Linked DNA regions of Homo sapiens: region 2 is linked to region 1. The links come from fine-mapping of genetic effects on gene expression. A gene starts in region 1. The other region holds a variant in brackets. All regions are shown on one strand. Distances are from middle to middle. Region 1 holds the start of SYN1 (synapsin I). Region 2 overlaps SYN1 (synapsin I).

What was found. PIP is the estimated chance that this variant, and not a neighbour inherited with it, causes the effect.
Region 2: its variant is fine-mapped to the expression of SYN1 in whole blood (TOPMed, PIP 0.98).

Annotation. Positions count from the first base shown.
Region 1 is chrX:47,618,003-47,622,393 of GRCh38, forward strand. It overlaps SYN1 (synapsin I), which reads right to left and starts at 1,855. Exons shown (of 13, transcript NM_006950.3): 1 at 1,350-1,855. The coding sequence starts at 1,726. RefSeq lists silencers at 1,868-2,162, 1,869-2,078.
Region 2 is chrX:47,594,197-47,598,587 of GRCh38, forward strand. All of the region lies in intron 5 of SYN1 (synapsin I), which reads right to left. Among named protein-coding and RNA genes, the nearest start is that of MIR4769, 9.0 kb to the left of the region's middle. The variant C/A (reference allele first, on the strand shown) is at 2,050.

The DNA.
Region 1 (4,391 bases):
GAGCTCGATTCTTCATCCATAGGAGAAAAGGCTTTTGTGAAGAAGGCACACAATCAGGTACACAGCAGGTGCTCCATAAATACTCCAAGGAGTGATTAAAAGAAAAGGTCTTTGGAAAGAGTGACTGGAATGGTACACACAGCAAGTGCCAGATATCTGAGCACTGTATTAACTGGAGGCACAGGCCTTTATGGAGAGGTCTAAGGTTGGGTCATGCAGAAAGTGCTCAATACATGCAGACTGAAGCCACTGGAGGAAAGGGTATTGCAGAAAGGGTTTGAGGGTGGGGTATACAGCAGGCACCAGTCAATGCATGCTTGCTGAATACACTGGAGGAAAGAACTTTTAGAGAAGGCTCACACTGCAGGCAGTTGATAAATGCTAGATGGATCCACCAAAGGAAAGGTCTTTGAAGAAGTAGCTGGAGAACGGGGGATACAAGAGGCACTCAATAAATGTTTTCTAGATCCACTGTAGGGAAAGGTCTTTGAGGAGACGGTCTGAAGATGAGTCACACAAAGAAGGTTCAAAACTGCTCATGGAACTCACTGGAGGAAAATGATTTGTTTGAGAAGGGGTTTGGGGGTGCGGCACGTATCAGGCACTTAACAAATGCTTCCTAGATCCTTTGGAGAAAAGGCCCTCAGAGAGAGGGCTTGGAGTTGGGGCACAGAGAAGGCATCCAATCAAAACTCACAGGATCCATGAAAGGCAAAGCTTTTGGAGAGAAGCTGGGGTGGGATACACAGCAGGTACTCAATGTTTACTAAATAGTTTAAAAGGGCTTTAAGGACGGAGCTGGGGTGGGACACATAGCATAGACTGGACACATGCTCACAAGACCCATTAGAGAAGGCCTCAGGGCAAGGGTTGAGGAGAACAGGACAGTATCAGGCTCTCAAAGAATGCTCACAAACCTCATTGAAATCAAAGGCCTTGGGGAAGGGCTCTTGGATGAGGCATACTGCAGGTACTAGATAAGTGCTCACAAGATCCATTAGAGGACAAGGCCTATGGGGCAAGGGTTGGGGAGGGTAGGAAGGACACGTTCGGTTTTCGAAGGCTCATAGGATATATTGAAGCCAAAGACTTTTGGGGGAGGGGTAGTAGGGAACAGGTACGCAGCAGGTGCCTGATAATTGCTCCCTGGATCCATCAAGGTTTAAGGGGCGGAGGGGGGCGACAAGGGCGGGGCACAGAGGAAGCATCCAGCTTAATAATTTAAAGGAAAAAGATTTAGGTGAGAGGGCCAGGTGTCAGGCACACAAGCGGCGCTCGATAATTGCTCATTCGCAGAAGAACGATCTGGGGACCCAGGCCCACGGGAGACGTCCGCGGCAGTGGCTTACCAGTCGGTGTGCGGCTCGTCGATGACCAGCAGCACCCTGGAGGCGGCTCCCCCGCGGCCTGCGCCCCCAGAGCCGCCGCCCACCTGCTCGCTGAAGGTGGCAGCTGCCGCCGCCGTGGTCTGCTTGACCGCGTTGGACAGCGACGAGAAGAAGCCACCGCCCCCCGAGGACCCGGGGCTAGGGGCGGCCGGAGAGGCCGCTGGGGCGACCCCGGAGGACCTCTCGGCAGTGGCGGTCCCGGGACCGGGCGTGGCTCCGGGGCTGTGGGCACCGGGCGGCGGTGGGGGCGGCTGCGGACGCTGCAGGTCTGTCATGTACCCATTTGGCAGATTGGCCATAAAGTTGCTGTCCGACAGGCGGCGCCGCAGGTAGTTCATGGCTGCGACTTGGGGCAGGGGGTCCTAGGGGTGGTCTGGCCAGGAGCCGCGGGGGCGGACTGCGCGGTGCCCAGGAGCACAGCTGCGCTCTCAGGCACGACACGACTCCTCCGCTGCCCACCGCAGACTGAGGCAGCGCTGAGTCGCCGGCGCCGCAGCGCAGATGGTCGCGCCCGTGCCCCCCTATCTCGCGCCTCGCGTGGTGCGGTCCGGCTGGGCCGGCGGCGGCGCGGACGCGACCAAGGTGGCCGGGAAGGGGAGTTTGCGGGGGACCGGCGAGTGACGTCAGCGCGCCTTCAGTGCTGAGGCGGCGGTGGCGCGCGCCGCCAGGCGGGGGCGAAGGCACTGTCCGCGGTGCTGAAGCTGGCAGTGCGCACGCGCCTCGCCGCATCCTGTTTCCCCTCCCCCTCTCTGATAGGGGATGCGCAATTTGGGGAATGGGGGTTGGGTGCTTGTCCAGTGGGTCGGGGTCGGTCGTCAGGTAGGCACCCCCACCCCGCCTCATCCTGGTCCTAAAACCCACTTGCACTCATACGCAGGGCCCTCTGCAGATACTCGGTTTGTAGTGTTGATATTCAACTCAGAAGGCATTTTTTGGGGGGAGGGGGGCACTGGAAGCACACTCAGAGACACGAAAGTAGAGAAATAACCCCCTCACAGAGGGGGGTGAGGTCACACGCAGTGCCCGCGGGGAGATTAGTCTCCCACATCCACACAGGCTCAGCTAGGCAGAGAGCGGGGGCGTCACAGACAGCATCAGACAAGCGGAGGTGGACACTTGGGTGGTGTACACACCCTTGCCCAAGGTGGCAAGGGGGGCCTGGAGGCACACAAGAAATGACACACATATAAACACACACAAAAGTGAGGAAACATACGAGGGCATGTACAGACAGAACACACGCCAATCTAGGTATACATACAGACATACAAGTCCAGAGTAACACACATGGGCATGTTACATACATGCATGCATACACCCATACCCCCACACACACAGGTAACACACTGACACACAGAGACCCAGGGAAACTCATATGAGCATACACTTGCAGACAAAACACATTCCCACCGATGATCATGGAGAAACCTAGATCTGCAACACAGACATTCTCTGCAGCCCTAGCCCTGGTGCGTGTCCACCCCCACACCAGAACACACTTGGTATATACGCCACCATCCCTTTGCTCTGGACACCGCCAAAACTCACGATAACTACCTGATGTCATCAGTGCCCATGGCTGTCTCCCCCTGCACCCAAGAACTTTCCACAGAGGCAGGCCCATCCCATGGTGCACACACAGTAGGTACCAAATAATGTTTGCATATGAGCAAATGAGGTAGTCCAAGCAGAGGTGGGATATGGGAACCTGTCAAATCTTTATGATTCTGACTACAATAAAAGCACTAATTCATAATCATTTGTTCACTGATTGTACCCAACTCTTAACTAAGCTGTTTACATGCATCATTTCATCCAACCCTCACAACAATCCAGTGGGGTGGATAATATAATGTCTATTTTACAGATGAGGGAATACAAGAACTCCAGTTAATTCCCAAAGGGTCATGTTCACTTTATGATCAACACATTTTTTTAAGAATGTGCCAGGAAGAGGAAACATCCAGTGCCAATGTGGCTGGAACAAGCTGAAGGGGGTTGTGGTAGCAGGGGCCAGATTGGGTAGGACCTTGACCATAGTGAGCAGTGATGGTGGACTAGGAGAGGTGGCAGAAGATAGGCAAGAAGTAAGTAGATATGGAGTCTCTTTTGCCTGCAGAATTTTCAGGTGACTCATCCACTTATTCATTTGTTCATCCTTTATTCATTAAATCATTGGCTGGTTTAAACAAGGCAGTAATAGTGTGGGGTCTGGAGACACAGTGCCTGGGTTCAAGTGGGGCCTCCACCATACACTTGGGAAAGTGACTTAATCTTTCTGAGATTTGGTTTCCTCATCTGTAAAAAGGATACATCTCTAACCCACCTCTAAGGAGAGGGGTAGGAAGGGGGCAACCTCTGTACCTTTGCATGTGTTGTAACTTCTGCCAGGAATGTCCTCTCCTTCTCTCTCGAGGGCTGCCTTTGGCCACTGTCTGCAGGAACCCCTCACCCCCAGGTCTCAGATTCTATCCCCTCCTCCCCTAGGCTTCCACAGTACCCAAGTCAAACACTTCCCAAACCATCCTCTACTCCCTCCTCCAACCCAGCCAGCTTCAGTCCCACCTCCAGGCCTTTGATTTGGCCACTCTTTTCTCCTCCCTTCAGGATTCCTTCTCTGGCATTCCAAATCCTAGTGTTACCCAGATGGGGATCTCCCCGCAAATCAGATATTTTCCAATGTCTTGAAGTATGTGCTCCCTGGTTTTTTGCCCAGTAACGGAAGCAAACAAGCTGTGCAGGGCGCGGTGCCCTCTTTGGGGACAGGAACAGCTGCAGGTCTACAGATCTTTCTGACTCCTTTAGGTCTGAATTCAGGTTCCTCGGGAATCTATCTCCAGGCTGCGCCTCTTCCTGGGGTCCCCATTCCTAGGTTCCTAGTACTTGTGGCCCCAGCACCATTTCATTTTTCCACGTGGCTCAATTTCCAGAAATTAATTTTTTGTAGATTGTTTTGTAGAGGAATGAGGATTCACCTCAGGAGTGCCTCAATTCACTAAGGCA
Region 2 (4,391 bases), 24 kb before region 1:
GCACTCCAGCCTGGGCGACAGAGTCACGGACTCTATCTCAAAAAAAAAAAAAAGGCTGGGTGCAGTGGCTCACGTCTGTAATCCCAGAACTTTGGGAGGCAGAGGCAAGTGGATCACCTGAGGCCAGGAGTTCAAGACCAGCCTGGCTAACATGGTGAACCCCATCTCTACTAAAAATACAAAAATAATTAGCTGGGTGTGGTGGCACACACCTGTAGTCCCAGCTACTTGGGAGGCTGATGCAAGAGAATTGCTTGAACCCGGGAGGCAGAGGCTGCAGTGAGCCAAGACCACACCACCACACTCCAGTTGGGTGACAAAGTGAGACTCTGTCTCAAAAAAAAAAAAAAGAAAAAGAAAAAAAAAGACCTCCCTTTTAGAAGGGGTCCTGCCCAATACCCAGAAGGAAGGGATGTTGCAGAGAGAGTCTAAGGCTCTGAACAGACAGGCCTTGCTGGGTTTCCCCACTCAGTCTGTTAGTACAAGATCACACCCTTTTTGTCCCATCACATTTCTTTCTTTCTTTTCTTTTCTTTTTTTTTTTTTTTGAGACAGAGTTTCGCTCTTGTTGCCCAGGCTGGAGTGCAATGGTGTGATCTCAGCTCACCGCAACCTCCGTCTCCTTGGTTCAAGCAATTCTCCTGCCTCAGCCGCTCGAGTAGCTGGGATTACAGGCATGCGCCACTGCCCCTGGCTAATTTTGTATTTTTAGTAGGTACGGGGTTTCTCCATGTTGGTCAGGCTGGTCTAGAACTCCCGACCTCAGGTGATCCGCCTGCCTCAGCCTCCCAAAGTGCTGGGATTACAGGTGTGAGCCACTGCGCCTGGCTGTCCCATCACATTTCTATACAGTTATAAATCCTGCCTATGCAATGAAGTCTCCATGAAGGGCTGAAGAGGATGGAGTTGGAGAGCTTCTGGATAGCCGAACATGTGGGGTTCCTGGAGGGTGGCTACCTGGGGGTGGGGCATGGAAGCTCTGTGCTCTTTCCCACATGCTTCGTCCTCTGCATCTCTTCATCTGTATCCTTTGTAATGTAATACTCTTTACAATAAACCGATCATGTAAATAAGTGTTTCCCTGAGTTCCATGAGCCACACTAGCAAACTAATTGAACCTGAGGAAGGGGTTGTGGACCCCGATTTATAGCTAGTTGGTCAGAAGCACAGGTAAAATAACCTGGGGCTTGCCATCAGCATTAGAAGTAGGGCTTAGTCCTGTGGGACTACACCCTTAACCTGTGTGATCTGATGCTATCCTCCAGGTAGATAGTGTCAGAATTGAATTGCAGGACATCCAGCTGGTATATTAATTTGCTGCAGAATTAATTGCTTCTTGGTGTGTGTGTAAAAGCCTCCACACATGGTATTGTGAGAGCAGAAGAAAAAACAGTTTGATTCTTCTACTCACACACATATAACAATTTTATATATACACATATATGAAATTATATATATATACATAAAGAAATGAAATGTCCTAGCTGTGTACAATGAGAGGGCCTTGAAGCAAGAACATTCCAGTAGCAATGAGTAAATCTAGTTCCCAGATCTTGGCTTTGAAATACTATTATCTTTGGGCTGGGGCCGGGAAAGAACAAGATATGCCTGGAGGTGATGTCAGCAGAAATGTAAGAGCCTGTCTTCTCCTCCTTAAAATTGCTTAAAAGCAATGAGAACACTGGCAAAAATTGTCAAAACAAACTTATCAGAACTCTGGAAATTGACCAAGGTTTACAATTCAGAAAGCATTTTTTCAAGAAAATGGCTGAATCTTGGTAACAACAGGAAGCTGTGGCATTTGAACTTCTCTTGTACACATCCCCTTCTCCTCACCTCCACAAGAGCCTTGAAAATCAACAGCCCTGCAATTCCAGTGAAAACCAGCAGACTAGCAACCATTGGAGGAGGCAGAACAGGGTTGGAGTTCCTCCAAAATCTCATTTCCAGAGAACTGTCTTTATTTGATCTGTCTGGCACTATCCTGAATACTCCACTCATGGGGCTCATCTGGTATAAACAGCTTTCTCTGGGGGTGCTTTTCAGAAA[C/A]AATTAGCAGCAACTGTTTAACACAGCAGTGATAACATTTAGGAAAAAACAACAAGCTTTTCAAGAAAACTTAAAAGGAAAATCTAGGTAATTATATATCCATTATCAGTCCATTATTAGGCTTTAAAAAGCTCTGACATATGCCTGGGAATCTAGAAAACCACAAATACGCATAAGGCTGTATGTATGCCTAGGATCTCTGGCTGACCTCAAAACTCTGCACAAGCAGGAAATGAAGGATAAGGCAAAGTTGTAAACAGCCTGCCTTTGCATTAAAGGCACACCCTGACATGCACATAGAGCCCATCAGCAAAGTCTGGGAGACTTACTGGTTTCAGGTGATTTAAAGAAATATCTGTCCAATCATTAGCTGACCACTAAGCTAACGGAGCAGAGACTTGGGTAGCCACATATGACAAAGAACACAGGCTTTACAGAATTAGTTCAGGAAGGTCACTAAAAACAAAACAAAGCAATAAAAACAAATCCTGAGGAGGGGAGAGAACCTGATTCCCAGAGTTGCCACATTATATTATTTAAATGTCCAGTTTTCAACAAAAATGTATGAGAGATGCAAAGAAACAAAATTAAGTGTGGCCCAAACACAGGGAAAAAAGCAGTCAAACACTATCCCTGAGGAAACCCAGATGTTAGACTTAATAGGCAAAAACTGTAAATCAGTGATTTTTAATATTTTCAAAGAACTAAAGGAAACTATGTTTAAAGAACTTAAAGGAAAGGATAAAATGATATCCTAATAAGTAGAGAGTATCAATAAAGAGAAATTACATGAAAAAGAAATTCTGGGCCGGGCATGGTGGCTCATGCCTGTAATCCCAGCACTTTGGGAGACTGAGGCGGGTGGATCACCTGAGGTCAGGAGTTTGAGACCAGCCTGGCCAATACGGTGAAACCCCCCTCTCAACTAAAAATACAAAAATTATCCAGGCATGGTGGCGTGTGCCTGTAATCCCAGCTACTCGGGAGGCTGAGGCACGAGAATTGCTTGAACCTGGGAGGTGGAGGTTGCAGTGAGCCGAGATTGTGCCATTGCACTCTAGCCTGGGTGACAGGAGTGAAACTCCATCTCAAAAAAAAAAAAAAAAAGAAATTCTGGAGATAAAAAGCATAATAACTGAAATGAAAAATTCACTAGAGGGGATCAACAGTAGCTTTGAGCTGGCAGGGTAAAGAATCAGTGAATTTGAAGACAGGTCAGGTGAGATGATCCAATCTGAGGAACAGGAAGAAGAAAAGTAAACAAAATGAACACAGTCCTAGAGGTCTGTGGAACACCATGAAGCATATGAACACCCACATAATGGAAGTCCCAAAAGGAGAGAGAAAAGAGAGAAAAAAAGGTGCAAGAAAGACTATTTGAAGGAATAATGGCTAAAAATCCCCCCAATTTGATTTAAAGCATTAATCTATGCATTCAAGAAGTGCACTGAACTCCAACTAAGATAAATTCAAAGAGATAGGCACCCAGACACATCATAAACTTATAAAAGCTAAAGACAGAGAGAATCTTGAAAGTAAGAGAGAAGTAACTCATCATATACAAGGAATCCTCAATAGGATTAGCAGCTAATTTCTCATTAGAAATCTTGAAGTCAGAGGGCAGTAGGACAACATATTCAAAGTACTGAAAGAAAAAGACTGCCAAACAAGAATTCTACATCCAGCAAAATTATCTTTCAAAAATGAAGGAGAAATTAAGACATTCACAGATAAACAAAAACTGAGATAGTTCATCACTAACAAACTTCTACAAAAAATGCTAAACGGAGTCCTTCAGGGTGAAATAAAATGATACTAGCTAGTAATGTAAATCTACATAAAGAAATAAATAGCACCTGTAAAGTTAACTACATAGGTAAATATAAAAGACAGTATAAATGCATTTTTTTGCGTGTAACACTTTTTTACTCCTGATTTAAAAGACAACTGCATAAAGCAATAACTATAACTATGTTCATGGGCACACAATGTGTAAAGATGTAATTTGTTTGACAATAATAGCACAAAGGAGGGATGAAGGAATAAAGTTATATAGAGGCAATTTCTTTGTATTACTGAGCTTAATTTGGTATTAATTCTAATTGGAGTAATATAAATAATGATGTTAATTGTAATACCCAAGGAAACAACTAAGAAAAAAAAAAAACAGGCTAAGTGCAGTGGCTCATGCCTGTAATCACAACACTTTGGGAGGCCAAGGTGGGTAACTTGAGCTCAGGAGTTTGAGACCAGCATGGGCAACATGGCAAGGTCCTGTCTCTACAAAAAAATTAAAAATTGGCCAGGTGCGGTGGCACACGCCTGTAATCCCAGTACTTTGG